4 separate regions of the Homo sapiens genome follow, and regions 2, 3 and 4 are each linked to region 1. Evidence: fine-mapped expression QTL. A gene starts in region 1. Each other region holds a variant in brackets. All regions are shown on one strand. Distances are between the middles of the regions.

Region 1 (8,145 bases):
ATTTTCATATGTAGAGGAATAAAAAACTACAATATGTTAGAATAGTGAGATGGGAGAAAATTCTTCTCAGTTTTCTGGTTTTAAATATTTATGTACTAAGGTTGTTCATTTAAAATTTTAATTAAAAAATTAATATTATTTCCTTTAAAGAAAGCTCTCCAAACTTAATGTTATTTAACATTTAAAGGCTCTTTGGAAAGAAAATAATCGAGGAGAATTAATTTGATCTTGTTTTTAACTTTTAGAAAGTATTTAACTGCAATCCTATGAAAAATATTTATTGTATAGCTACCTATATATGCATAGAGAACGTCTGAAAAAGCAGACTCTATAATGTTTACTGGTGTTATTGCAGGGTGAATAGGTTACAGGTGACCTTTTCTTTAGAGTTTTCTAGGGTTTTCTCTCCTGAATTTTGTACAATGACCTGAAATTACTTTTATTATGGTAAAATACTAATTACGTTTTTTAAAAAAAGTCCTGGTTAGCATTTTGAAATGAAAAAATCAAATTGGTTCAAACTTGTTCAAACTTTTAAAGTCTTAAGATGGATTTTTGAACTTTAATTTTTCCTGCTTTTCATCTATACTGGTTTTAAATCTCAATTTTTAGAAAAATAATGTCTCAGTTAACTAGGTGAAGTAACTTTCGAATTTAAACAAACAAACAAAACTGGTAAGAATTTGACAGCGGTCACCAGAACAGTACTCTACCAAGCATAAGAAATCCTGGAATTATTCTATCTTGCAGAAGAGGGTGAACATCCTAAAGATTAAATTAAAAGGCACTTCTAAAAAGTATAATTGTGTTTACCCAACTTCCTAGGGAAATGTCTTTGTTAAAAAGCTGCATTTCATTCATTCATATTCCGGATAGTGGGCATTTTCTAATAAAAAGTAAAATCTCAGTAAATGGGCTACAGTTTTGTTTATTCCTAGAAAGGCTCTCTTTTAAAGTGCGGTGTCTGCAACGTTGTTATGACAATAAGTCAAATTCTTATTGATATTCCAAGTATAAAATAATCCGTAGCAATGTTACTAAAATGTGCTCAATTTTGCTCTTCAAATATGAAAGCGTTTCATCTGTGTTTCAGAAACCTAACTCAGCTGTAGACAATTTGGTTTTCCCTTTTAACTTAAACTTGTTTTACTAAGATCATCAACAGATTGTCAGTTTCCCAAGCACCTGACACTGAGGCGCTTAGATGGGAATCCGCGTTAAGGTTTTATTTAGCATCCTTCCTCATCAGAATTTTAGCGTCTTATCAGCCACTGCAATTTTCCCTGACATAAAATATATATGTTCATAGTACAAATGCACGCAAATATTTGTGGCCGAATCTCGGCAACCCGCTGGAAAGGATTAAACGTGCGGTTGCCGTGACTAAACGCATTCATTCACCCTACAAGATTTAGGAAAATGTAACGTTGCAAGGGAAGCAAGGTCTCTGTGTAAACCTCGTAATCGCCACCAAAAGTCGGTAGCTGGGAGCCTTCAAAGCCCGCCAAACACACTGGAAGCATCCACAGCTGTTTTAAATTGGTTTTGGTTTCTGGAAATAGCGCACTCGGTACGGCAGCATCTCTGGCCTCCAGCCGGGGTTAACCCTGACCTGAACGCCCTGTTTAGCTCCCAGCATTTCATGATTCCGCTTCCCTGCTCCGTAAAACCGAAGAAAACCGAGATTTCCGTCACCGAGAAATGCACTTAGCAAGAGGGGGAAATTCGGTGTTTTAAATGTCACATTTTTGTGTTCTCTACCACTATCAAGAAAAGGAAAAAAGATGTGTTTGTGTAGCGGGGACGCAGCTTGACACCCATTTCCTTTGGCTCGCATCGCGGTCGCAGAGCCCAATCGCGGGGAAACGGGCCCCCCAGAAAAACAGGCAACGACCCCCAGCTCTTTGCTACAGGGATCGGGAGAGGACTACCCTGGGGCTGGGCGGGGAGGGGGATGTTGGGAACAGGAATTGGAGATGGAATTTCTGCGCCCGCAGAGCAGGGAGGGGCCCGCGGGGGCGCGGAGAGGAAAAAAAGGCCAGGGGTCAAGCCTGGGGAGAGAGAAGCTGGGCCGGGGAAATGGGGTACAGGGTGTACTGAAGGAGGGGTACGGTGGGGTCCGGGACAGAAAGAGAGGCTGGTGCCCAAAGGGCGCGCTCAGGCGCCCGGAACCCGAGCGGGGGAGGGGGAGGCGGCGGCCTGTTGGCCCCGGGACCTCCACGTCGCGCGCAGGCCACTAACCTGTCAGCAAGAATGTGCCAGTGGTCGCGGGGCTCATCCTGCGTGTCCCCCGACCCTGTCCCGTCCAAGCACAGGGGTCTCCCAGCTCCCACCACCGGGGCAATTGCATTCTTGGCCTGGCTAGGCCGTCCGTCCTCGATTCTCCCCTCCCCTCCCTTTCTTCTTCCCTCCCAGCTTGGCCAGTTCAGCATCAGCATCCCGCACCCCCTCGGTAATCCCGTACTCCCTCTAGCGGCGGGCCACTGCAGCGTGGCCACCGCCCCCACCCCCATCCCCCATCCCCGCACCCCCCTCCACCCCCTAGCCCGCGGAGCACGCTGGGATTTGGCGCCCCCCTCCTCGGTGCAACCTATATAAGGCTCACAGTCTGCGCTCCTGGTACACGCGCTTCAACTTCGGTTGGTGTGTGTCGAAGAAACCTGACTGCGCCCTGAGGAGAACAGCGGAGAAGGTCCACCGAGCCTGGCGAAAGGTCCGCTGAGCGGGCTGTCGTCCGGAGCCACTCCGGGCTGCGGAGCACCCAGTGGAGACCGCGCCTGGCTCAGGTGTGGGACCCCATCCTTCCTGTCTTCGCAGAGGAGTCCTCGCGTGGTGAGTATGCGGTGAGGACGTTTTTTTTTTAAAGATCACGTTCATTCCCCGTGCTTATCGGGAGCTGCGGGAGATGGAGTAGCACCCCAGAATGTCTCCACGCAAAACTTGTCACGCCTTCACTGGCTGTACCCCAAAACAAATGGGGAAACCAAGCCTTAAAGGCTTGGGTTTCCAGGACCAAGTCCAGATACGGGCTGTAGACAGAGATGAGCTGCGGACAGTGATGAGCTGCAGACGGTCAGGAGCTATAGATCGATTTGCAATTTGCTCTTCAAATGCGCTACCAAGTGCCATGCTTTACAAACAGATAAGCGCTTCAAATGCGCTACAAACTGGCGCTTCAGATGCGCTACAAGCACGCTTCACGCGGGCGACAAACTGATGGGAGCTACAACTGGCGCTTCATTGCGCTATAAACTGATGGGCGCTTTATGTGCCACAAACTGACGGATGGGCGCTTCAGTGGCGCTACAATCCAGAACGAGGAGCAGCGATATAGGAGCTGCAGACAGAAAACTGAATTGCGCTTTACATGCGCTGCAAAATCTGAGCTGCAGAAGAGTAGCACTACAAAAAACGCTACAAAAACGATGCGATTAGCCAGCCCGACAACAGCGCTTCATTGCGCTGCGAGGCACATGAACTGCAGAGGTACATGAGCTGCGGAACAATTCACACCTAAGATGCACTACAAAGTGGTAAGAGCTGCAGAGGTACAGGAGCTGCAGACCGTTTGCGCTACAAATAAAGCAGCCGTAGTGGGACATGAGCTGCGGAGTACAATTCCTCTGTTTTCTTGGAGCAGGACCCCACCCTTTCACCTTTTGGAATGGCTCCCACTCTATTTTTCTGCAGGACGGTTCTCGCATGATGGTGCTGGTAGACAAAATGGAGCCCCGGGCAAAAATTAGTGTTTAACATTCTGCCCACACCATTCCCGCTATAGCAGTGGAGTGGAGGGGCACTGATTGGAGTGGAAATGGGAATCTTTTGGTGATGGCAGAGCAGGCTGCCTGCCTACTTGTGCTTGATTGAAGTGGCGGTGTAGTTGTGGTGGCGCGAATCAGCGTCCAGCAACAGTTTGTGGAAACTGTGGGTTTGCTGAGTATGGCGGGGGAATTGGATCTGTGGATTGCTCTTGCTGCATGAAATGAATCTGGCTTTGGTGACTGGTGGGAGGGGTTTGGGAGGGGGGATTCTGGCGGCGGGGGGGGGGGGTGTGCAGATACTCTGCAGCCCTGTAGCAGCCAGTCTCAGGCCTGCCCCGCCCATCCTAGTGTGCCTTCTCTGCGGTGCTTAGCGCCTCCTCCTACAGCGCCTCCTCAGAGCGCGCCTCCCCTGCAGCGCGCCTTCCCAGAGCGCGCCTTCTAGATGCGGCCTCCTCAGGCCCCTCCTCCCAGCTCCTTAGCGCCTGCCTGCCCAGGCCCCACCTCTCTCTGGCCACCTCATTCTGAGGTGAGCTGCTCAGGCCCCGCCTCTTCCAGGCCCGCCTTTTCTGTGGTGAGCTGCCCAGGCCCTGCCTCTCCCGGGCCCACCTACTCTGAGGTGAACTGTCCAGGCCCCGCCTCTCCCGGGGCCGCCCCCTCTGAGGTGAACTGCCCAGGCCCCACCTCTCCTGGGCCCGCCTCCTCTGAGGTGAACTGCCCAGGCCCCGCCTCTCCTGGGCCCGCCTCCTCTGAGGTGAACTGCCCAGACCCCACCTCTCCTGGGCCCGCCTCCTCTGAGGTGAACTGCCCAGGCCCCGCCTCTCCTGGGCCCGCCTCCTCTGAGGTGAACTGCCCAGGCCCCGCCTCTCCTGGGCCCGCCTCCTCTGATGTGAGCTCACCCAGATCCCACCTCCCCAGGCCCGCCTCCTCTTAGGTAGCCTGCTCAGGCCCCGCCTCTCCAAGGCTTGGCCCCTCCCTAAGCCTGCCTCTGCCGGGCTGGCCTATAGTCCCACCTCCCTCAGAGCCGGCTAGCACACATGCGCAGTGTGAACCCTCAGCCCCTCCCTTCAGGCGCCGGTCCTCTGCACCTGCGCACCTTCCTTGCCTGAGCCCTGGCTGTACAGCCCCGCCCCCCTGCGGTTTCTCTGCTGTGTTGGTTTTGCTTTTTGGCTACTAGAGTCTAATAGAATAATAAATAAAACAATTAACAATAATAATTATAACTGGAATTTATGAGCACTTTTAATATGTTCTTTGCATATATTCAATAACATAATCCCACAATTTAAACTCCTGATAGTGGCTTATGAAGGGACCTTGTAAACTGACATGGCTGGTGCCTCTAAAGGCAATTTAGCCAAATGTTTTTACTGCAAATGAAAACCAAAACTTAACAATTTATTTTTAAAAACTTTAAAAATATTTTCACATTTAAGGTTTTTTTAGAGGCACTAGTGGACCTTTGGGAATCGGATGTTTTGGTGGATACAAAATTGGTGCTGTTGGTTTGGCCTCTGAGTGAGGATAAGGCTTTTATTTGCGTGCCTATGAAGCTGGGTGTTTTCCTTGAATCTCTAGGTGATTAACCCTAGCCTATTTGCCTATGTATAATAAATTGTGCCTGCACATGGTAGGCATTCATTAAATATGTGTTAAATGACCAGAGTAAATTGGTTTATTCAGTGTCTTGCTTGGTGTCTGTAGGTCTCTTCTGATTTGCTCCTTTCCTATGGTGCTTTGCTGTCCTGGGTTGCCTTGTTTGCGTTATCTCTCACATTTAACAGAATAAAAAAAAAGTGTATGTGTTTTTAAACTCCAATGATATAAGCTGTAATTATAATACAAAGCAACTAAATTAATTTTAATTATTCCAAATAATTAGCTTTTTTCATAAAAAGCTAGTTATTCCAAATATTAGCTTTTTTCATGAAAAGCTAGTTATTCCAAATAATTAGCTTTTTTCATAAAAAGCTAGTTATTCCAAATAATTAGCTTTTTTCATAAAAAGCTAGTTATTCCAAATAATTAGCTTTTTTCATAAAAAGCTAGTTATTCCAAATAATTAGCTTTTTTCATAAAAAGCTAGTTATTCCAAATAATTAGCTTTTTTCATAAAAAGCTAGTTATTCCAAATAATTAGCTTTTTTCATAAAAAGCTAATTTAAATTTGGGGCAAGTGTATTATTAATGGTACATATTGTATTAAAGTTTGTGTAATGTAATATAAAGTGGCCACATTACAAAATATAGGTTGTTTCAGCTTGCAAAATTAAACAACTGTATAAAACAAATTTATAACTGATTGCTAGTAAGAGGTACCATGTAAGAATTGTGTTTCCAGCTGAATGAAGAAATTTTAAAACCTGGTTCCATATATTACAAATCATGAGCCAGGACTTTGGTAGGGGAGGAATTGGGGGCTTTGGCTCCCAAAAATCTCTGTCACATACCCCCTCCCCACCACAAGTACACAATCTATGGAAAATTTGTGCTTATCATAATTACAGCTTTAAGTAATTTTCCCTTCTCTTTGGATATTGTATATTTGCATATTGAAGAGGTTCAAAACAACAGTAATAACATGCATATTAAGAGAATTTGCATTTCATAAATAGTACAAGATAGTACTAAAAAATTGGACATTTGAAAATATGAAGCAACTAAGAGTTGCTTAATGAGATGTCATTTCCTAACAGGATGTTCATTTATGGTTTTTGGCTACTATTGCTCTTTGGTGTGTTTGTGGAATAGAAATTATTCCAAGCTATTGTGAAGAGTCAATAATTAACCAAATGTATTTATTTCCTAAAAAGACTAAAACTGAAATTATTATCATGTAAAGATGGCATCTGTCCTAGGCAACTTGGCTTTATGCAGTTTGTCCTTTCAGTTTTCAGGAATGAGACCTCTTGACCCCTCCCCTCCAATGCAGCCCCTACTAAGGGGGAGTTTAAGGAGCCATACATAGTTCTATAATTCAAATCAAGTAAACATGCTTCTTGTCCCAGGTTAACTTGTGCTGCCTCAGTCGCTGTTTAAACATTTTTATACGCACTGTTAACCTGCCTGCCCATTACCCTATTACTTTTAATGGATAAACTACTGTTCCCTGGGCAGTTGTCTCTTTTAACGTCCCACCCTAAACTTGCCAACCCTCATATGAAGGCCTCAGGCTTGTTATTGGCAAAGGTCAGAAGTCTTAAGCTAGTGACCTTGCAGGCTAAAGTAGGCCTTGAATTTGTTTGACCAGGAACTAAATTAAAAAATAAAAAAGAATGAAATGTCTGGTGGCAGGGGGGCAGGGGTGGGGAGGGTGGTAAGGGGGAGGGCATGCACCCCCAAGTTCCATTGTTGCAGCCCCTCCCATCTTAACTCTGGTCTCTTTTCACTTTTCAACTACCTTCCTTATATACCAAAGGTATTTGAATTTTTAACTCTTATTGATCTTTTATTTCCCTAAACCATGTAGTAATTATTTGCTGATTTCCTAATGTATTGTTATTTCTGTCCCATCACTGTTTTTTGCAGATAATAAAACCATCAGACCTGGGCTTCAATAAAGCCCCACTTAGTGGCCGTGATTGACAAGTGGTCAGGCTGCACCAGGCCATGCTGTGAATGCTCTTTAGGAAGTCTTGTCTCAAGGTTTTGAAGATATTAATGTCTAGATGACAAAAGTGGTACCTTAGTCACCTTACTTATGGTTATTAGTTGTTCATTAATGGGACATGAAAACTCCTAATTTAATAAGGAAAAATTGCATTATGTTGTGATGTTATATTGTCAGGGTCAGCAATACAATTGTCTTTAAGGAGTTGGAAATGATACTGAATGTCACGGGTTATGATGTGTTTATTGTGTTTTCTAATTTTTTCTAAACTTGAATATTTTATCTTGAATGTCAATTATTTGTTGTTTTTATAGCCTAAGTTACTAAAGTAATTAAGTAGTGGGGTTAAAACTGTTAAAATGTCACACTACTCCCTGTCTCTTAAAGACCCTGCTTGCTGTATAGCCACTCCTTGGAGAGGCTACACCAACTGCAAAGGACACAGGGATAGTATCTGTGGGTGGTGACATTGGGGCATGGGAGGTACCTAAAGAGTTTAGGAGTTGGAGAGGAAGGAGCATTTCTTTACAGCCAGGGGCTGGGCATCATGTTTAATTACCACTTTTTTTTTTTCTTGTACTCTATTGGTTGAAAATAGTAACTATTTTTCACCTAACTTCTCTAATTACCAACTGTGTATCTTTTTGGCCTTATTCTATGTAATTTATTTGGCGTCCATTTTTGCAGGTAAATCACATAGTGAGTATCCAGAGAGGACCAACTTATGTATTTAAACTTTTGTTTATTTAAAAGTTTTATAAACTTTCTTTAAAA
Region 2 (5,000 bases), 23 kb before region 1:
ACAATCTACCATGGCCCTCCTGGGTTTGAAGATGACAAGCACATTTCTTTATTCATGTGTACTCAATTGCCTTTCAGCAATCTGCTGAACTGCATACTTGCTGGTCAGTTACCTTGGCAACTCCACAGTAAAGGCTGCTTCACTTTAAGTATAGTATGCCATTCACTTTGAGAAAAACATGATACAGATGTATGACACATTCATCATCTAGAAATGGAAAATGACTAAGCCACTATGTTTTGTTTGTAAAAATAATACTTCCTTTCTGTAGCATCAGTTTAAATTACAGGCACCCACACAACATTTTAGAGGAGTGCCCTTTGCCTTTCCCTTTCGCATTTGTTACTTGCAAAACAAATAGCTCTGCAACGGAGGCAATTTAGGCAGTATTTACACCTATGCTTCCTTTCAAAAACAACAAATGACACAGAGAATTCGAAGCTATAGGTTCTTGTTCTAAACGTGAGCTATATAAATAAAGCTGATGGGGTCCACTCCAACACCTACAGAGGCTATTACTAACAGTTAACACATGTTGCAGTCACATATGCCCAGGCAGCACTCACAAACCATAAGCTTAAAGCATGTTGTTTTCCTTAAGAGCAAGTCTTGAAAATCAAATTTAAACACTCTAAGAATCCACAACACTAAGATCTAATAATCTCTGAAATATACATGTGTACAGTGCCATGCTAATCAAGCCAAGGTAACAGGGTCTGGCCTCTCTGTGTATCGCATGGTTTTGCAATCTTCTACGGCTGCAAATCCATTACCTCTGCAAACATACGCCACTAGATATAAATGAAACTGGAAAACTATGGGTGGTTAAATCCATGCAATTCTATCACTATTAATGGGAAAAACAATGAGACCAAAAGTCCAACCCGCAAGAGGTCAAAAATATCATCTCCAAATAGCAAGCATAGCTAGATTTACAAAGATTAAAAACTTCTGAAGACAGGTAGTCATAAGGAACAGAATTTTTTAAGTAATAATTACATATCTGAGTAGAGAGAGCCAAAGGGTTATGTAAGCAAGTAGCTGGGATCATTATCTCGCTCTCCCTAAACATAGATCCAATTTATCTCATCACCATGTTACCAAAACCTTGTTCACAAAACTGTTATCTGTATGTTTCATTCACAGGGTATAGAATCTGCAGCCATTTCAACAACTCTATATTATGTGACAGCATAGAGCCCAGAATCAAATAACAGACCACGAAAGCAGTAGCAAAAAAAAAGGGAGCTCATGCTAGCTAAACAATGTCTTGTTTTCCTTTACTAATAGTCCAGTGGAAACTCTCTCTCCATAATGAAAATATATGGGTGTGCACGTGTGCTTATTACAATTACCTTCAAAGCAAGTTTGAATGTATTTAGTAAACATTAAATTTTGAAAGTACTATGGTGGTACGCTGCCAATGAATCCACAGCATATAACTTCACAATTCTCACAATGATTATTCTTAATGGCATGTGCATAAGCACAGGCACACACACAGCCCCTTCACTACAAAAATGTCCAGAGAACACTTGCCAGTTCTTTTTCTGCATCACCAAGAACAATTACATGGCTATAAAGATAAAATAACAACTGAGTATAAGACCCTGCAAGTTTGAGCTAGTTTTAAATCTTAAAGCCATCTGTCTTCTGAAATCTTTGAGAAGAAAGTCATAAAGTATTGTCAATATTTATGTCCGGGTGACTTTGATTAGGTACCCAGTATGTTTAGGTCTCTCTTATAGATGCTTTATTAATAAACTAATCACTTTAAAATGTCCATTTATATCATCATTTTCTAATTTTTAAGGTTTACAAGGATCTAATAAAATCTCAGTTTACCAGAACCACATGAAATGAATTGTTCCACAGAGCTGATGTTTCTGAAGTACTCTGCAGTTGATTCTTTTTCATGATGGTATAAGATCATCATTTTGTACATCAATTGTTGCACTCTGCTCTATTATACGGTGATACCCGTATGGACTGTTTGGTTGCCTTGTCATTTACCGATCACACTGTGGGTCCCAGTCTGCTAATGCTTTTTAAGGTTGTGTGTTTTACAGATTTTGTTTTCTCTTTTGTAGACAAGTTGTCAGCTGTCATTTCTCATTGCTATCAGTATGTTTCCCATAGCAGCTTCTCTATCCCCTCTAATTTGCTGTTATTAATCGGCTGCAGGTTTAGAAACCAGACTACCAAATGAGGCAGGGTTGCACATTGAAGTAAAAACAAATGCGTGCTGTTTAACACACATAGGGCTCTGCTAGATGTAAAAGACAGGAGCCTGCATTCGCAGCATCTATTTTGGCTGCCGAAAGACTCTTTTGTGGCGTATTTCCT[A/G]GTTCTTAGTTGACGCAGTACACTTCTGAATAGATGATCTTACTATACTTGAGAGAGAGCCATTACTTAAGGTGATGGCAGCAGAAACTCTGTTATAAAATACATTCACAAATAAATAGGTGTACAATTGAAAGTCTTAATTCAACCCATATATTACATAACTGTGAACTGTCAAATAAAAAATGGATTGAATGCATTGTATAAAACACTTACATATTCGATATGTGGGAAATACACTGCACAATTTAAACGAAGAGATCTATGGATTAAATGATATGTTGCCCTTAGTTATAGCTAAATCAGCCTAAGATACTATAACACAATATAATTAATAAGTAACTTATTAATAAGCAATTAAAGTCTATTTCTAAAAGCATTTCAATTTTATCAATTTGTTTCTCACATGAAGAGTTTGAAGATGGAAGCTGTTCATTGGGAAGCATCGCAAAGGTGTTTTAACTAAGTTCAAATTATTTAAATATGATAGTATATATTTCACAGCTAGGAAATTAGTTGTTCAAGTAATTTGAACTTAGTTTAAGTATTGCCTTAACAGTAAGTATTATCTAAAAAAATGTTTTGGATAAGAATGATTAAGAAGGTTTTAAGGTATGTTGAGGATACAAAGAGAGTACTAAACAGCCACCTATCTGCTGTATCTTTTAAAATAAATTGTTGCCTAAGCAACTAGGTATCATCATCCCTGATAATTAAAAATGTTAAGTACTGACAAAAAATAATACTTCTCGTCTCATATTTTATAGTTTTAACATCTAAAAACTCTTTATGAGATTCAGAGTCCCTGTATACATAGGAATTGAACAAGAGGCAAATCTCACTTGCTGTCTCTGCATCAAAAGAACTCATTTCAAAGTTTGCATAGCCTGATACATTTATGGATTCCTTTCTAATTTATTTTTTTAACATGTTGTTACTACAGTCAAATTGAAATTTAATTATTAAGCCAGGTAATTGCTGTAGAGAAATATTTTAAGAGAGATCAATATCCAGCCAGTTAGACAACCTGTTTTTGTTTTTGTTTTTCTCACTAAGATTTACCTTGTGTTTTATCAATACAACTTTATGAATCTTGGCTTTGAATCAAAAGCTTTTCTCAGCAGTCTGCCCTTCACCTTTAATTCACTCAACATCAAAGTACTGCAGGCCATTCATCTGGCATTGGCCAGCTATTGTTTTTTTTTCAGTCACAGATAGTCCATGCCTTGGCTGTGGAATCCATCACTAAGAAGGCATTACAGTGTCTTTGTAAACTTCATTTCTCTAGGAGATATGGCCACTTTTCTTTACATGAAGTAGGAGAGGAAACCATTACTTGAATCTTCTACAAAAAAGCAGAAGAGTTTCTTCATGATATTTTCCCCAACTAAAACCACTTACTTTCAGTTTTTCCAAAGTGGAACTAAACATCTTGATTATTGTGTGATTTCATGTGTGTGTTTTTTAAATGTCAATCGGAAAAAGGTTGCAAACCATTGCTAATTGGTGATCAATAAGCTTAGTGTCATAGCATGCTACATTGAAAAGAGCTTTATATGTCATCCTGTCTGGGCATGCCAAATATATTTCTTTATTAAGAGACAGATCATAACATTATTTCCTACCTGCATATGGCCTCTGCCTCCTACTTAACCCAGGATTCCTGACAGTTACTAACAATCAGAGTTTGCATGCATTTGCTCTCTTGGAGAGTTCAGTCCATTTTATAGATAACAAAATTGAACGTAGAGGGACTAAGTGACTGCTTCAAGCCTATAGGACCCATAACTAGAAAATAGAAAAAAGGAAGAGTGGGTGTGTCAAAGAAGCTGATGGCCCTCAGCTTGCTCAAGTAGGTCCCCTACTCCCATTCCAGGGAAAAAAAGAAGAGATTCCATAGTCCATATCTGGAGTATTCCTTATTGCTTTTGTAACCACTTACTGGGTGCTGAGGTAGAATGTCAAAAGTTAAGGCATTCAAATTCCTTAGAATCCTATTTACAGAAGAAGTACCATCCTACCGCTTTAGCTAAGAATTGGAATATTCTTTGCTGGGCCTGGCAGCTCACGCCTATAATCCCAGCACATTGGGAGGGCAAGGCGGGCAGATCACCTGAGGTCAGGAGTTCAAGACCAGCCTGGCCAACATGGTGAAACCCCATCTCTACTAAAAATACAAAAAATTAGCAGGGCGTGGTGGTGGGTGCCTATAATCCCAGCTACTCAGGAGGCAGGAGAATCACTTGAACCCGGGAGGAGGAAGTTGCAGTGAGCTGAGATCACACCATTGCACTCCAGCCTAGGCAACAAGAGCGAAACTCCATCTCAAAAAAAAAAAAAAAGCTACACAAAACATATATTTGTCAAATTTATTTTATATATAAATGATCCTATCATCTTTTGTGCTCTCTTGAAATTTTCTAAAAGAGATGACTGGGATTCATGGTCAAGAACATCTCAAAGAACATTCTATATCTGAGACAGCATTTAAAATGGCCTTGCCATACAAGTTACTAGTATTTGTTATTATAATTTTAAAAGTGATGAAACAATTCTCCTCATACAGTTGACAAAACTTACTCCCTGTATAAGGTATCTTGATAATTCAGAACTATAATGATAGGATATAAATAGGATGAGAAGAAAGAAAAATAATC
Region 3 (8,145 bases), 100 kb before region 1:
CTGCCCCTTCAATCCCAGATTTTCCAACCTGTCAGATTCATAAGAGGGTACTATTCACTAACTTTATCAGAGTAAAACTGTAAACTTTGTTTCAAAGGCTGGTAATGGAATTTGGGTATGGTTGATTGAGTAAGGTGACTAATTCAGAGGACTCTTTTAACTCAAATAGTTAATTGTAGATTATTGAGGACATTTGGAGAATGATAACTATATTTTAACTTTAACAGTTGTTATTTGGGATACTGATACCATACTGGCTGAAATATTTTGTATTTTTCTGTTTGATGAGTAAATACTAGTTATTTTGTCTGTGAGATTAAAAACCTTAGGTAGAATGATTTTCTAATTACCAGATTTTTTGATTTGGGGGCTTAAGAAAATTTTACACTCTCAGTAGCCTTTCATGTGAAATGAAAATAAGTTTACCAAGTTTTAAGTCATCTTTTTTGGTCATTAGAAGATAAATTTATTTTCAAATTTTTAAAATTTCATTTGAAATACATTTCAAATGAAGTGATATTTTCAAATGAAATAAAACAGAATTTTAACATTGTGAATGACTCTTATATAATCCAAACTTCAGAAAACTATAATCTGTAATAGAATTGCAAAGCAAATATTGACTTGTACCATCTTAATTTATTTTCTGGATTCCTTTTTTCAGGGTGCATTTGAGAAGATCTTTTCTCTTTGGCCATTGTCCAAGTGTTTTGAACTGAAAGGGAATGTATATGAATGGTGGTTCAGATGGAGGTTAGACCGTTATGTATGTATTTACTTTGTGATATTTTGTCATTTCAAATTATACTGTTGGAAAATGATTGGAAATTTTTGATCTATCTATACTTAGTTTCAGAATAAATAAAGATGTTGATTTAGTAAATCAAAGCAGTCCAGCAGTCCACTACCCCCTGCACTCTTTTCTTTACAGCAGTGAAAGGGTATGCATGTGTATATATATATCTGCTGGGAAATATTATTTTAAAATATTATCTATAACATGGCCTTTGTCTGACTTATAATTTTGATTTATAGGTGACTTGTTGTATATATGCTTCAGCCATTCAAAACAATATTTATTGAGTTTCAATATGTGCCCTAGATGTTGATGCCATGAAGTATACATTAGAGAAAGAAAGAAGACATCTCAGCAGGCTTCGAAGCTTTCAGAGTCTAGTTTAAAACCCAAGATTACTATTATAAGAGGCTACTAACTATGCAATATAGATTTAGTGGTAGAAGTGTGCAAAGAAGAAAGAGCAGTGTCTTGTATTAGTCTATGAACTTGATCTTGAAGAAAGGTTAAGGTTCAATTGGCCAGGAAAATGTAAATCTAGCACAGCATTTGGAAAACTGATAATAACTATTAATTATTTCATTCTTTCCTTTTTTCCTTTCCTTTTTGACTGATCTCTTTTTTCCAATAAATGTTTTCTTAGTGCCTATTCTTTGCCTTTCCTAGTTTCCAACCCCTATGCATTTTTCCAGTGTACTACATTGCATTTCAAAACCACATCTGAATAAAATCTTTGCTAAAGTCTTCACATCAAATAATTTTTAAATTCTCAACATTCTCATTAGAGCAGTGTATTATGATACGACTGTCCCAGTCTATTTAGGCTGCTGTAATAGAGTACCATAGATTGGGTGGTTTATAAACAACAAAAATTTATTTCTTACAGTTTTGGAAGCTGGGAAGTGTAAAATCACACCAGCAGATTTGGTCTGGTGAGGGCCCACTTGCTATTTCATAGACACTTGACTTCTCACTCTGTCCTCATGTGCTGCAAGGGTCAAGGGTGCTCTCTGGGGTCTTTTTTTTTAAAGGGCATGAATCCCATTCATGAAGGCTCTGACCTAATGACCAACCAAAGGCTTTACCTCCAAAACTGTCACACTGGGGATTAACATGATTCAACTTACGATTTTGAGTGGAAGGAAATGTTCAGTCTATTGCAATGATAGTTCACATTAAGTCCTTGTTTAAAAAGAGAAAGCTCATGTACTTTCCGGTCTACCATATTTTTTTCACTTTTATGAGCGTACACTTCTTTTCAGAATTATGACTTGGTGGTGTTATTCTTTGTTTTATTTGACTGAAAGGACTGATATAAAATGTGTTTCATCTTTGTTGGGTGCATTTAAATTTTATCATATGTCTGTAGGAGAGTTCCTTATTATTTTTAAATTGTCTTTATTACTTCACTTGCCACTGAGACTGCTCAGAATCAACCAGTGTTATCTCATATTGTTCCAAGAGATGCTTGCTTGTCTATTGCTGATGGTTTCTAACAATCATCGGCTTTATTTCATTTCTTGAAGTTTCACTCTTGAAGTCCTTCATAGACACTTCAAACTTTAAGCTTTTAACCTACCTACTTTTATTCATATATTCCTCACTAACCAAATATTTTTCCTGTTTTTTGAAAAGTAACTGTTTAAAACAAATTTTCTCTCTTTACTTTTCAGGTAGTTTTCCACGGAATGCTGTTTGCTTTTATTTATCTGGCTTTGCAGAAGCGTCAAATACTTTCTGAAGGAAAGGGTGAACCTCTTTTTTCAAACAAAATTTCAAATTTTCTGTTGTTTATTTCAGTAGTTTCTTTCTTGGTAAGTTTTGAAAACTTTCCAAAATTCTAAATGGTATGGAATATTAACATTAAGATATGGAAATATAATCAATTATTTTTAATAATAAATCTTTTTTTCTCCTTATTTTTCTTTTTAATATTTAGAAATTTTAATACTTCTCTCCCAGTAATTGATAGGATAGCTAGACAAATTTAGTAAAGTTGTAGAATATCTTAAGGACACGGTCAGTTTGACCTGATGTTAGAATAGTTAGGTAAGCAATAACAGCAGAATACACATTTATTTCAAATGCATGCAAAATGTTTGCCAAGATAAACTATATTTTTATCTATAAAAATAGTTTCAATAATTTTTTAAAATTGTTTGTTTTTAATTATGAATACATATTAGTTCATATTTATGGGGCACATGTGATATTTTGATACAAGCATACAATGCATAATGATCAAATCAAGGTAATGTTAAATGCTTGAGGCGATGTATATCTCCTTATTTTTCTAACTGGACTTAAATTCTAAAGAGACTATATATAAGTTAAAAATGAAGAATAAATAAGAGCTCAATTAAACGGGAATTTTAAAAGTTACAATAAATTTGGGATAAAATGTAATGTAAGGTGTTTCATATGGAGAGCCATCACTGCCTTTTGATCACTGTTTCCAGAAAAGCACAGACTTGTGCACCTCCCTCTGTGCTTTCTTATGTTTGGACAGTTGAACATACCAAAACAGGTGATGAGCAAACTTGCAAGCAGTTTTTACTGATAGTTTTTACATAGCATAATGAAGTATAATGTTATAAATAAAGAACTGTAAAAAAAAAACACTGTGAGGCTTATGCCTCTTCCAGACTTGCTTTTTTGAACTTTTCCATACATTTTTTGTTTTAGACCTATTCCATCTGGGCTAGCAGTTGTAAAAACAAAGCAGAGTGCAATGAACTCCATCCGTCTGTTTCTGTGGTACAGGTACTATCTTGATTTAGAGAAATTTCTACATCTTAATTCTTGATAAGAAAATGGTTTTTAGAGGCAGAGAGATTTGAGATTGAACTCCAGAAAATGTAGAGAAGTTACTTCATCTTTCTAAGCCCTTCCTTTCTCTGTAGTAATAGGGATATTAAAATCTCTTTCAAAGGGTTCTTGTATTTAATATATGGAAATGATGTAGCTCAGTATTTTTCACTTAATCTGCCCTTAGAAAATGGTGGCTCACGCCTGTAATCCCAGCACTTTGGGAGGCTAAGGCCAGTGGATCACCTGAGGTTAGGAGTTTGAGACCAGCCTGGACAACATGGTGAAACCCTGTCTCTACTAAAAATACAAAAATTAGCTGGGCGTGGTGGCGGGCACCTGTAATCCCAGCTACTTGGAAGGCTGAGGCAGGAGAATCACTTGAACCCAGAAGGCGGAGGTTGCAGTGACCTGAGATTGCATCATTGCACTCCAGCCTGGGCAATGAGCAAGACTCCGTCTCAAACAAACAAACAAAACCAAAAAGTTAATACTACATGCTAGATATTATGCCAAGGGCTGCAGTGGTTACCAAATCAGACATAGTTCCTACTCTTATGGAGCCTACATTCTTTTTAGCGTTGTACA[A/G]CTTATGCAATACTTTAATTATAATAACTCATTAAATGGTTTTATGTTTAAAGCCTTTGTTTAGGTCTCACATTCATGATTTTCACCACTCTGTATATCACTTATACTATTAATTATTTACAATGTTTCTTTAAATGACTCACAACCTGTGCTATAGTAAGTACCTTATGTATGTTTTCTCATTTAATGTTCACATGAACCTTTCAAAGTAAAGCTTATCTCTATTTGTTTAAATTAAAAAAAAGACCCACAAGATTAAGTGCCTTGCCACAAGTCCCAGGACTAACACAAGCAAAAGACTAGATTTAAACTTGAGTCTTTTTGATGCTATTGCCCATGAGAATCACTCAATTTAATTATACCTGAGTGGTTCACTTTGGTTCCTTTTTCCCATATTATCTCCTCCTCCTTCATCTTTTATGCATCCTAGAGACTTCTTAGATCCTTTGACAAAATGCCCAGGTTGATCAACATTGAATATGAGTTTTTCCCTGAAGTGTGAACAGATTTGTCAATCCTTTTGTAAGAGAAAGTTTCTGGAAAGTAGTTGTGAAAGTGGAGATAACTTTTTTTCTTTACAGTTTCTTGCTTTTTATAAGGAGGGTACATTCTAAGGCAAGGATTCTTTGCTTGGTAAGCTGGTTATTGGATGTGAGACAATGATTAACACAGCACATGTATACATATGTAACAAACCTGCACGTTGTGCACATGTACCCTAGAACTTAAATAAATAAATAAATAAATAAATAAATAAAAAGAAAATGCAAGATTGTTCCACCGAAAATGAAAGATTGTTCCACCTGGTACAAAAGGACAGGGGAGAGGAGTAAAGGCCAGGATCCCAAAAGCTGGAGATTCTTTCGGGAGAGAAAAGATCCAGAGAGGAAAATATATTACATGTGAATATAGTTCAAGACATCATTCGCCAGGCCATGCAGAGCAAACATGAAGACATGTTAAAAGCCATGCCATTTCCCGTACTATCATGGCTGTCAGCGGAAGGAGGATTTTGAAGGGAGTCAAGAGAGGGAATGACTGTCAACCAAGCAGATACTTTATGAGAGCAGCAAAATTATATGATTTTGTGAAGTGTTGCTACATAAATATGATAGCAACTTTTTCTACACAAAGGGCCTTAGGCAAATCTGTAATTTTTCCAGTATACATAAAATTGTTCAGCCATGTACTACTTAAAATGTTCATTGGTATGCAGCATACCGACCATGTGTTGAGAAATCCAGTTTGGGTAGACTTTAGAACAAAAATAACTTTCTAATACTTTTAGAATATAAAAAGACTGTTGTATATGTGTCAAGTTCACAAACATAAAGAATAAGGTTATCATTTAAAAGAAAGCTTTATACAAAATACTTTTCAATAAAGAGATTATTAATATTTGCTTTTGTGCTTTTTCTTTAGATTTTAGCCTTCATCCTAATAAGAAACATCCCTGGATATGCCCGTTCAGTTTACAGTTCATTTTTTGCTTGGTTTGGAAAAATTTCATTAGAGGTTGGTACATTAATATTTTGCTTATCTTACACAGCCAGGTGTTTCATGTTTGTGTATGTACGTGTGTGTGTGTAAATATCACACATATATGTGAGTATGAAAATCGGACGTACTTTTTTCTAAACTGAAGCTATTATGGAATTACAGGGAAAAGACTTAGAACTTTCAACAATACTAAAGTATTTTGGAATGTTTTTAAGCCTTATTTTTAAATGACTAGATATAGATTACTTGCAAAATATTATTTACGTTGTCTTGAGCTTTCAAGCACAACCAAGATGCTGAGACCAAGAGAGAAAAATATTAGACCAGGTATATAAATGAAATCAAACTGAGGGGATTTTGATTTTTTGTTCATCTCCATAATTAAATATATTACTGGAATTCAGTTTATTGATGCATACCATAATAAAATTTACCCTTATTATGATTGGAAATTGTGGGAGAAAGTATAAACTCATTACATTTTGTGTAAGATACATAATATGAAATTATCTACAAAATCAGTTTGAACAGTAGGTTTTAAAATGTATTCTGAGTAGTCTAAGCTTTATTATTTGAAATAGAATGTTTTAAAACAATTTATATTGTAATAACAACATATATTTTAGAGTTTTTAGAGTATAGGATTTATTAAATTGTCTCTTAAAATAGGGAAAATAAATTCCTCTTTGAGTTCTTGAATAATTGTTCTATTATTTTCTTTGGTCTCATTTATAAGAGAGATTGTATTAGCAGTTGGAGTTCTAAGGAGTAGACTGCAGTGGACTTTTCAGGGCCAGTAGTGAGACAGAATAAAATGGTTTTAGGAAAGCCTTCTAATGTTATTATGCAACCAAATTGTTTAAATTAGGGAAAACTGTAATTTATTCATGGACCCTCTATAAATATCTGACTTAAATATTTTTTCTCCTAGCTATTTATTTGCCAGTATCACATATGGCTGGCAGCGGACACAAGGGGTATCTTGGTACTGATACCTGGAAACCCTATGCTCAACATCATTGTCAGCACTTTCATATTTGTTTGTGTGGCACATGAAATTTCTCAGATCACTAATGATCTTGCACAGATTATTATTCCTAAAGATAACTCATCTCTCTTGAAAAGGTTGGCATGTATAGCTGCATTTTTTTGTGGACTCCTCATCTTATCATCCATTCAAGATAAATCAAAACATTAGGTTCCAAAAATTCTAAAAAACCTAAACTCTTCAGGCTACCTTTGTGTGTCTCTAGAAGAGAAAAGCATCTATCTGGAGATATAAATGTGTATGTAAATATAAACGTTTGTGGCAAGAGGACAGTTCTGTGACATCTGTTGAACATATGTGGTTGTATATATTGGAAATGTACATATCCAATATGAAATACTAAAACAAACAAACAAACAAAAAACCAGAATGCATTGTATAGGATTGCATGTGAAGTCTTTTCTACTGAATCTATATTTCCATTTGTAAGTGATTTTAAGTTAACATATGAAGGCAGGGAAATGATTACCTTTCCAGTAAAAAGTATAGATAATTTAATTAACTTAGTGACACCACCAAGTGTTTTGATATAACTAAATTTGTGGTAATAAGACTGTCTGCACCTGTATTCATTGTGGAACTTCCTCTTTCATTGGAAACTTTCTTACTCAAGAATGACGGCAGTATTGTTTTCTTATATGTGCAATGAAGTGGAATGATAAACAGTATGCCTTTAATTTATATGTGTTCTTGTTCTGATGTTGTTTCCTGAAATGATTTTTCTTCCTAACTGTGGTTTTCGGGTATGCAAGCCTAAATCTTTGTACACTTTGTCTCACAGAATAGTTCTGAGGCTCCATGACAGGGTTTTGTCATTGTTGATGTTATTGTTGCTTCGTTTTATAAAAAAGCCAAAATTTTTTTTCCAATCCAAACGTTCACCTGTTTCCTTTCCTCAAGCTATACCAGTGTAATACCAGTTACCCTGTGGATCCATTTAATATGTTATCCCCACTAATTAATTTTCGTATATTATTTCCAATATTTGGAAAGCTCTTTATAGCCATTTGGTATTTCCTATTACCCACCTCCTATTTTAAATATTTATCAGTCTAAACTTGTGCAGTGTAGTAAACATGCAAGTTGTTACGATTGAGCTGTATTACCATAAGTAGAATTTTAAGTAAACTGGTGAATTTGGGCAATAAATGTTTTTGCTTTTTGTTTGATTTTTTTTTACAAGCTAACTGTTAGAGGTATACATTTATTTATCTGTTGTACAGATTTGATTATGATTTTAATGTTTGAAAGATTGCACTTGTTTGCTTTTACTATATGTGGGGTAAAATATATTTTCTGTTCACAGTATATGAAAATATGGAGTAATTTAAACAGTAAATAAACATTCTGTGGATGCTTATTTTTGTATTGGCAAAGTATCAATTAAACTATATGTGTTCTTTTT
Region 4 (8,145 bases), 160 kb before region 1:
AATTTGACTTTTTCCATTTTATCTAGGACTTCAATACAATGTTGAATAAAAGGGAACTCTATTTCAATGTCATAGAACTTGAGTTAACAAAATGATTACTTTCTAAAATGTTTTATTCCGCTTCCAATTATTGTCCCCAACATTATAAGTCATTATCCTAGCTCCCATGAAGCAATCCACCAAACAAGTAGGCAATTGCCACACTTGTAATGAATGACCTCTGAATCCTATTTCCTAATCATTTATTACATCCAAGAAACCATGAATTTGTGTAGTTTTTTCCCCTAAGGTAGTTTTCAAATGTGTCTTACTGCTTTCCCATCATCAAGCCAGTTGAGGTTATTGTAGGGAAAGAATTGTGCTTCAATGTAAAAAAGTATGTATTATTTAGATCATAAACTTCCAGGCATCTGATTCTTGTCCTTCATTGTGCTTGAGCTATTTACAACTCTGTATATTGTAGATAACTGATAGCAATGTACAATAATTATTGTCTATGAAGTGTAAATTCTCTCTGGTGAAGAGTCAACTGGCTTGCCTCCTTTCCCACCTGTCCCCATGAAGCCAGTCTTACCTTCATTAGCACATTTATTTAAATATTCTTGATTTATAATTTTTAAAAATTCCTCCTTGACTTCGTTGTAACACCTCACCTGTTTCCTCTTGAGTTAAACAAATATTTAACATGTTTATTTTTATATTAATATAAAAGTTATGATTTTATCTTTCATGAAAAATTTATTTTAACATATTAAAAAGTGATTTGCTGTCACTTCTAAACATTCAAGATCATCAGTAATATGGCCCCTTTGGCCATCCTACTGCTCATGTAAACTCTTTGATACTAAAACAGCCTATATCAGGCCAAGAAACATGAAAAAATCCTCGACATCACTAATTATCAGAGAAATGCAAATGAAAACCACTGTGTGATACCACCTTACTCCTGCAAGAATGGTCATAATCAAACAATAAAAAATAATAGATGTGGGCATCTATTATTTATTATTATTATTTTTTTGAGATGGAGTCTCGCTCTGTTGCCAGGCTGGAGTGCAGTGGCACTATCTCGGCTCACTGCAACCTCCGCTGAAAAGGGAACACTTTTATACTGTTGATGGGAGTGTAAACTAGTACAACCACTATGGAAAACAGTGTGGAGATTCCTTAAAGAACTAAAAGTAAATCTACCCTTGGATCCAGCAATCCCACTTTTGGGTATCTATCGAAGGAAAAGAAGTCACTGTATGAAAAAGATTCTTGCACGTGCATGTTTATAGAAACACAATTCATAATTGCAAAAATATGAAGCCAGCCCAAATGCCCATTAATCAATAAGTAGATAAAGAAAATGTGGTATATGTATACCATGGAATACTACTTAGCCATGAAAAGGAACAAAATCATGGCATTTGTAGCAATCTGGATGAAATTCTAAGTGAAAAAAAACAGGAAAGGAAAACCAAACGTTGTATGTTCTCACTCATAAGTGAGAGCTAAGCTGTGAGGATGCAAAGGCATAAAAATGATTTAATGGACTTTGGGGACTCAGGGGAAAGAGTGGGAGGGAGGTGAGGGATAAAAGACTACACATTGCGTACAGTGTACATTACTTCGGTGTTGGGTGTACCAAAATCTCAGAAGTCATCACTAAAGGACTTATTCATGTAACTAAACACCACCTGTTCCCCAAAAGCCTATTTAAATAAATAAATAAATAAATAAATAAATAAGCCTAAATCATCATTCTCTAAGTATACCATGGGAGTTTTTGTTTCTTTTTTCTGGCTCTTAGCTAACTCTTGATGTCTTGTCTAACTCTTGTCCCCAGCCAGACCTGGGGACAAGTGGGTACATCGACGATTGATTTCATAGTCAAAAAAGCATCTCATGTATATCTAAGTCTGACTGTACATAGTCAACAAGTTGTTCTTCATTCATAAGAGTCATATTTGTGGGGTGGGCGTGGTGGCTCACACCTGTAATCCCAGCACTTTGGGAGGCTGAGGTGGATGGATCACCTGAGTTCAGGAGTTCAATACCAGCCTGGCCAATATGGTGAAAGCTGTCTCTACTAAAAAAAAAAAAAAAAAAAAAAAAAAAAAAAATATATATATATATACAAAAATTAGGTGTGCTGGCAGGTGCCTGTAATCCTAGCTACTCAGGAGGCTGAGGCAGGAAAATTGCTTGAACCCAGGAGGCGGAGGTTGCAGCAAGCTGAGATCAAGCCATTGCACTCCAGCCTGGGCAACAAGAGCGAAACTCTGTCTCAAAAAAAAAAAAAAGTAGTATTTGGGTAGTATTTGGGAATCTGGTTTTATGATGTGATCATGTAGTGACCTCTCTCAGGATATAAAGGGGATCAGTTTCTGTTGGGTGAGAGAGAATAAAAAAACCGGTTTGTTAGCCCTCTTTTTATTTACTTGTCTGTTTGACTATTTGTGAGCTCAACTCAATCAGGAAAACATTATATGCTCACTAAAAGTAAAATGTCCCTTTGAGATCTGCACTAGTGATTTTTATGGTTCTGTGTTTACTGTTGACTCATGATTGAGGCTGTAGAACTGAAACTTCAAGTTCTCAGTCTCAGTAAGTCTATCTGTAATTGTGAAAAACCTTTACCTTTCATTGCGTGAGTTTGACATTTTTCCACCTCATGTATGTAAATAAATTAAATTATAAAGTCTCTGAAATTTAAATAGCTTCTCTCTAATTGGTTCATAGAGAAAAATAAGCACTTCTATAACTGGCATTCACAAATTTCTCAGGAAATAAATTGTTCTTTTAAAACTAGGCTTAAAAATTATTATGGAAATCTCAAGATCAGAAGCAGGTTTGTATGAAAACATGAGTTCATATTATAAAGGTGAATCTTTTGAGTCATATATTTTATGAGAAAAAAATAAAATAAAGGTGAATCTTTTACAGATTAGGCTTGTTTGGTAACTTTTGATTTGAAAACAGCTATATGACTCTTCCCTAATTTTACTGATGGGGTTGAACTGGTTTTCTATTGCCACATAACAATATTGCCACAAATTTCTCAACCTTACACCAAAAACATTGATAAACTTACAGTTTCTGTTGATCAATCAAAGCTCAGTCTGCTACAGCAAGGGAGAATACCACCTTGAGAGATCCTAGTAATATCTCAAAATGGGAACGTAAGAGGAGGATATTTATAAGGCTTAGGGATCTAGGCTTCAGTTGTTTAAGTCAGGTTTATCAAGACAAGAAACTAACTGAACTGGAGGACAGTTCATGACTTACAGTTTAGGATTAGGAGACCCAGAAAGGCCAACTTCTTGACATAAGCCTTGATAAGTAATTTTTCTTTTTCTTTTCTTTTCTTTTTCTTTTTTTTTTTTTTTTGAGACAAAGTCTTGCTCTTTTGCCCAGGCTGGAGTACAGTAGTATGATCTCGGCTCACTGCACCCTCCACCTCCTGGATTCAAGAAGTAATTTTCCTGCCTCAGCCTCCCAAGTAGCTGAGATTCCAGGCACCTGCCACCACACCTGGCTAATTTTTTTTTTTTTTTTTTGAGTTGGAGCTTTGTTCTTGTGGCCCAGGGTAGAGTGCAATGGTGAGATTTTAGCTCACTGCAACCTCTGCCTCCTGAGTTCAAGCAATTCTCCTGCCTCAGCCTCCTGAGCAGCTGGGATTACAGGCACCTGCCACCACGCCTGGCGAGTT[T/G]TTTTGTTTGTTTGCTTTGTTTTGTTGTTTTTTGTTTTTAGTAGAGACAGGGTTTCACCATGTTGGCCAGGCTGGTCTCAAACTCCTGACCTCAGATGATCCACCCACCTCGGCCTCCTAAAGTGCTGGATCAGGTGTGAGCCAACATGCCCAGCCTTATTTTTGTATTTGTAGTAGAGGCAGGCTTTTGCCACGTTGGCCAGGCTGGTATCGAACTCCTGACCTCAAGTGATCCGCCCACCTCAGCCTCCCAAAGTGCTGGGATTGCAGGCATTAGCCACCATGCCCGGCCCGTAAGTAATTTTTTTAATAAGCTGCCCATTTGGCCAGATAAGCAATCTATTATCCCGATAGAAGAACTGCTTGGCCAGATGAACAAACTATATAGACAAGTTGCTTTTCAGGAATTTCCTGAAGCAAGTAGTAAAGTTATATATTGGTTTATAGCTTTATATTTCTGGGCAAGAATTTCTTAAACAATAAGTAAGTCAAATTAACGTGGGGGAGTCTCTGTTCTAAGTCCCCACATTAAGCTATGTGAATACAAATGGTCTAAATTCTTAAATTAGAATACGGTAAGTTGTAGTTTGTCAACATAACTAAGATCCTTATTTAACTTTAAAACCTGAGTCTATTCTTAGATCAAGTTATTTAATAGATAACTTGGACACCTAGATAATTTTTAAGGGAAATAGAATACTAAAATTTGGTCACCCTACATATTTTGAATATATACACTTTTTTTCTTATAGTGGATATATCTGTTGTTCATGTTAATGACTGTGTTTACCTTACTAATGATTGGGTTTACTCTGATTTAAAGGAGTGAAAAATGGATGTGGGTGACTCTAGGAGGTGATTTCATTAGTTTTGTTAATTTGCTAAACTGTGTATAATAGATACTTCTACATCCCCTTCTAGTTTTCTCTGTGAAATAGAAATCAGCTACTTTGACTGAAAGTTAGAATTTATACAAATAATCAAAGACTATACTAAAGCAATAGTAGCAGAAAATTGTGACTATGAATGCGAGGTAATGGAAATATTTTCTGTCTTAAACTAAAAGGTTTGGTTCTTCTAGAATGCGAAAAAGAATTGTGTAAAACAAATCTTGAATAGATGTAGAAAGTTGTAAGTAGAAAACAATTTATTTGCCTCACTGCAAATAATGAGTTGAAAAAGAAACAATAAAATATACTCAAATGTTGGCAACGTTCCCTCAATTTTGATGAGTTTATTTGTAAGATTGTTTTGTTTTTTAAATAGGACAGGCCAGGAGACGGAGGCTGCAGCCAACCATAAGCATGCCACTGCACTCCAGCCTGGGTGACAAAACAAGACCCTGTCTCAAAAAAATACAACAGAAATAGGGCAGGTTGTTCAGTTAGGCAGCACGTACACTAACATTGGAATGATACAAGAAGGTTAGCATGGCCTCTGCACAAGGATGACACACAAAATCATGATGTGTTCCATTAAAAAAAAATAGAGCAAGGAGCTAATAAATCCTTTCCTGCTAACTACTATATTAATGTAAAACTAGAATTTGGTTTTCTATGTACTAAAATAACAGTGTATCTCAAACTGTTTGGTCTGCTCTTAACAAAGGGTAGTAAAAGTTTATGCCTTTACATTCTATCTGGCCTGACAACATAGCAGAAATTCCATATCCCATCAAAACAGTTTTCTGTGTTTTATGGTCATATTTTCAAGCCCTTGATTTTTAAGCAGCAAAAACTTAAAGTTCTTCATTTGCTGAAAAGCTAAGACTCCTTTCTTTTGTGTCATCATATTCTTGTTATTTAAAATATTGTATTGTCATTTTGATCAACAGATATTGAATTTATTGTTTCTCAGGCACATCTGACCCTATGTTAATAGGTGATCTAAAGTACTCCAATAACTCTTGGTTTTGCTTTCCCACAATCACATCCTAGCTTCGGAAAAATAAAAATTAGAGGATTTTCTTCACACATAAAACTATCTTTGAAATTTCCCATAAGACCCCTAGAAAATCATGAAGCTTTTTTCTTTTGTTTTACAAAAGTAGAGATGTACCAAATAATTGTTTCCTTGACTTTTTTTCTTAGTTCAACACTATTGTAAGAATTGATCAAAATAGTAGTCAAATTAAAGGATACATTTTATTTTTTAAAAATTGTTTTATTATACTTTATGTTCTGAGGTACATGTGCAGAACGTGCAGTTTTGTTACGTAGGTATACACGTGCCATGGTGGTTTGCTGCACCCATCAACACATCACCTACATTAGGTATTTCTCCTAATGTTACCCCTCCCCTAGCTCCCCACCCCGCCGATGGGCCCCAGTGTGTGATGTTCCCCTCCCTATGTCCATGTGTTCTCATTGTTCAACTTCCACTCATGAGTGAGAACATGCAGTGTTTGGTTTTCTGTTCTTGTGATAGTTTGCTGAGAATGATGGTTTCCAGCTTCATCCATGTGCCTGCAAAGGACATGGACTCATCTAAAGGATAAATTTTATAAACAAAATATTACTCACACATTTATTTCTGAGACTGTACACATTACAGAATAAATTGGAAGGCCCTGGATATTTGTCTGTGCTCTCACTGTTCATAGTATTGTTTTACTTATAAGAAAAACACTGATCAAATTCTTATTAAAAAATTATGTATTGCGGCTGGGTGCAGTGGTTCACGACTGTAATCCCAGCACTTTGGAAGGCTGAGGCGGCCGGATCACCAGAAGTCAGGAATTTGAGACCGGCCTGGCCAACATGGTGAAACCCCTTCCCTACTAAAAATACAAAATTAGCCAGGCGTGGTGGTGCATGTCTGTAATCCCAGCTACTCGGGAGGCTGAGGCAGTAGAATCACTTGAACCCGGGAGGTGGAGGTTGCAGTGAGCCGAGATCATGCCATTGCACTCCAGCCTGGGCAAAAAGAGTGAAACTCGGTCTCACAAAAACAAAAATAATAATTATGTATTGCACCTCAACAGAGAATTTTACTGTCTTCAATTTTGACCTCATCATACAAAGCCCAGCCTGGAGTCACATTTGAGAATAAATTGAGATGGGAGAGTTCTTCGGACCCCTTCTCAGGTGACATGGGTGTGGCTCATTTACTCAGCCACCACACAAACCCCACGCAGGAGTGGGAGCATGCAGGCAAGCGGGTGCCGGGGCCTGGGTGAGTGTTTTTGGGCTCCAGCCCCATGGTAGCATCTAGGGATGTGTTACAATTAATGCTCTTTTAGCAGTTGCCATCCATGGACAGCTAAGTGTTAACCAGCTCAGTGGAGAGTTGTGGCAACAGCTTTTTATAACCTGCTCTCTTGGTACCTGGGGTCCTTGTCCCGGCATCCAGGAAGACAGGTCACACAGACTTGAATGATGGTGAATGCAGAGGTTTTACTGATTGATGGAGGTGGCTCTCAGTGGGATAGGGAGCTGGAAAGGGGATGGAGTGGGAAGACAATCTTCCCTTGAGTTTGGCCACCCCCAGCCAAACTCCTCTCTGACCGTCCAGCTGCCTCTTTGATATTCAGATGCTTCTTTTCTTCTCTCCTTCTCTGCTGTGCTGCTCTGCTCCTTTGCCAGAGGAGTTTGGGGTTTTTATGGGTACACAGGATGGGGGCATGGCAGGCCAGGGTGGTTTGGAAAAAGCAATGTTCGGGCAGGAAAACAGCAATAACTATTCTTATTTAGGGTGGCAGTTTCCAGGTGGAGCCTTTGCCAGGGAACCACCATCTTCTACTCAGTATTTCCCTGCCTCCTGTCCGTATCAAAATGACATTTAATCAAATATGGAAAGCTCATCATTAAGGAGCAAGATGTGAAAACAATGACCACAAATTTCACTTCCCACTCCCACTCGAAAAAAAAAAATCAACCTGGTTTATGGTTAAAGCCTCACAAGTGATGAGCAGTATCACTTACTAGTCAGCCAGGGACCTCAAGAGTATTTGGAGACTTCAAGTCGAAAGAAATTCACCAGAATCTATTAGAAATGACAGTGTAATCTTGGTGGATAGAATTTTGGGGCTTGGTTTTGTAGTCTTGGGATAGAAGAAAAAAATAACAGGCTTTTAAAGAATTGAATCCTATATTCCCTAATGAAATTACCTGACAGAATTTAATTATTTGGCCTCTGTAGTTGCTCAATACTGAATGTTCAAGGAAGTATATACAGTTAGTTAATACCTCTTGCTATGTGAACTATGTGAACTATCATGACAAAATATGAAACTAGCTTTATATGTGAGTGATCAAGAATAATCTCCAGAGGTTATTTATGATCACAAAAAGAGGCTGTTAAATAAACGTATTTAAAACTTGGAAATAAGGCAAAAAGGTAGCTTGGCAAAAAGGAGGAAACTTCAATGTCATAGTGTTTTTTTTTTTTTTAAACAGGCTTAACCAAGGATTATTTAATTATCTAAGGGAATGTATCTGAATTTGACT

Direction of the effects. Positions count from the first base shown, and alleles are read on the strand shown. Sizes are in standard deviations (SD) of each study's normalised expression. Not every link is listed here.
In carriers of allele A in region 2, the expression in tibial nerve of the gene that starts at base 2,577 in region 1 tends to be higher than with G alone (small effect, 0.17 SD a copy in GTEx).

Evidence for each region. PIP is the estimated chance that this variant, and not a neighbour inherited with it, causes the effect. A credible set is the group of variants that fine-mapping cannot tell apart.
Region 2: its variant is the best candidate, but not a certain one, in a credible set for the expression of PEG10 in tibial nerve (GTEx, PIP 0.61).
Region 3: its variant is the best candidate, but not a certain one, in a credible set for the expression of PEG10 in whole blood (INTERVAL, PIP 0.70).
Region 4: its variant is the best candidate, but not a certain one, in a credible set for the expression of PEG10 in blood mononuclear cells (TOPMed, PIP 0.68).

The regions. Positions count from the first base shown.
Region 1 is chr7:94,653,749-94,661,893 of GRCh38, forward strand. PEG10 (paternally expressed 10) reads left to right here and starts at 2,577. Exons shown (of 2, transcript NM_001172437.2): 1 at 2,577-2,843. The coding sequence starts at 2,839. SGCE (sarcoglycan epsilon) reads right to left here and starts at 2,385. Exons shown (of 11, transcript NM_003919.3): 1 at 2,242-2,385. The coding sequence starts at 2,350. RefSeq lists enhancers at 1,733-2,510, 3,780-3,829, 4,609-4,903 and a silencer at 4,300-4,539.
Region 2 is chr7:94,632,390-94,637,389 of GRCh38, forward strand. The region is part of intron 1 of SGCE (sarcoglycan epsilon); the gene reads right to left. It also overlaps a transcript of CASD1 not described here. Among named protein-coding and RNA genes, the nearest start is that of SGCE, 21 kb to the right of the region's middle. The variant A/G (reference allele first, on the strand shown) is at 2,347.
Region 3 is chr7:94,548,869-94,557,013 of GRCh38, forward strand. It overlaps CASD1 (CAS1 domain sialic acid O acetyltransferase 1), which reads left to right. Exons shown (of 18, transcript NM_022900.5): 14 at 665-766; 15 at 2,470-2,610; 16 at 3,482-3,559; 17 at 5,615-5,707; 18 at 6,624-8,145. The coding sequence ends at 6,890. The region is part of intron 1 of LOC105375404 (a long non-coding RNA gene); the gene reads right to left. Among named protein-coding and RNA genes, the nearest start is that of CASD1, 43 kb to the left of the region's middle. RefSeq lists an enhancer at 7,242-7,291. The variant A/G (reference allele first, on the strand shown) is at 4,193.
Region 4 is chr7:94,490,226-94,498,370 of GRCh38, forward strand. It overlaps the pseudogene RNU6-1328P. Among named protein-coding and RNA genes, the nearest start is that of CASD1, 16 kb to the right of the region's middle. The variant T/G (reference allele first, on the strand shown) is at 3,698.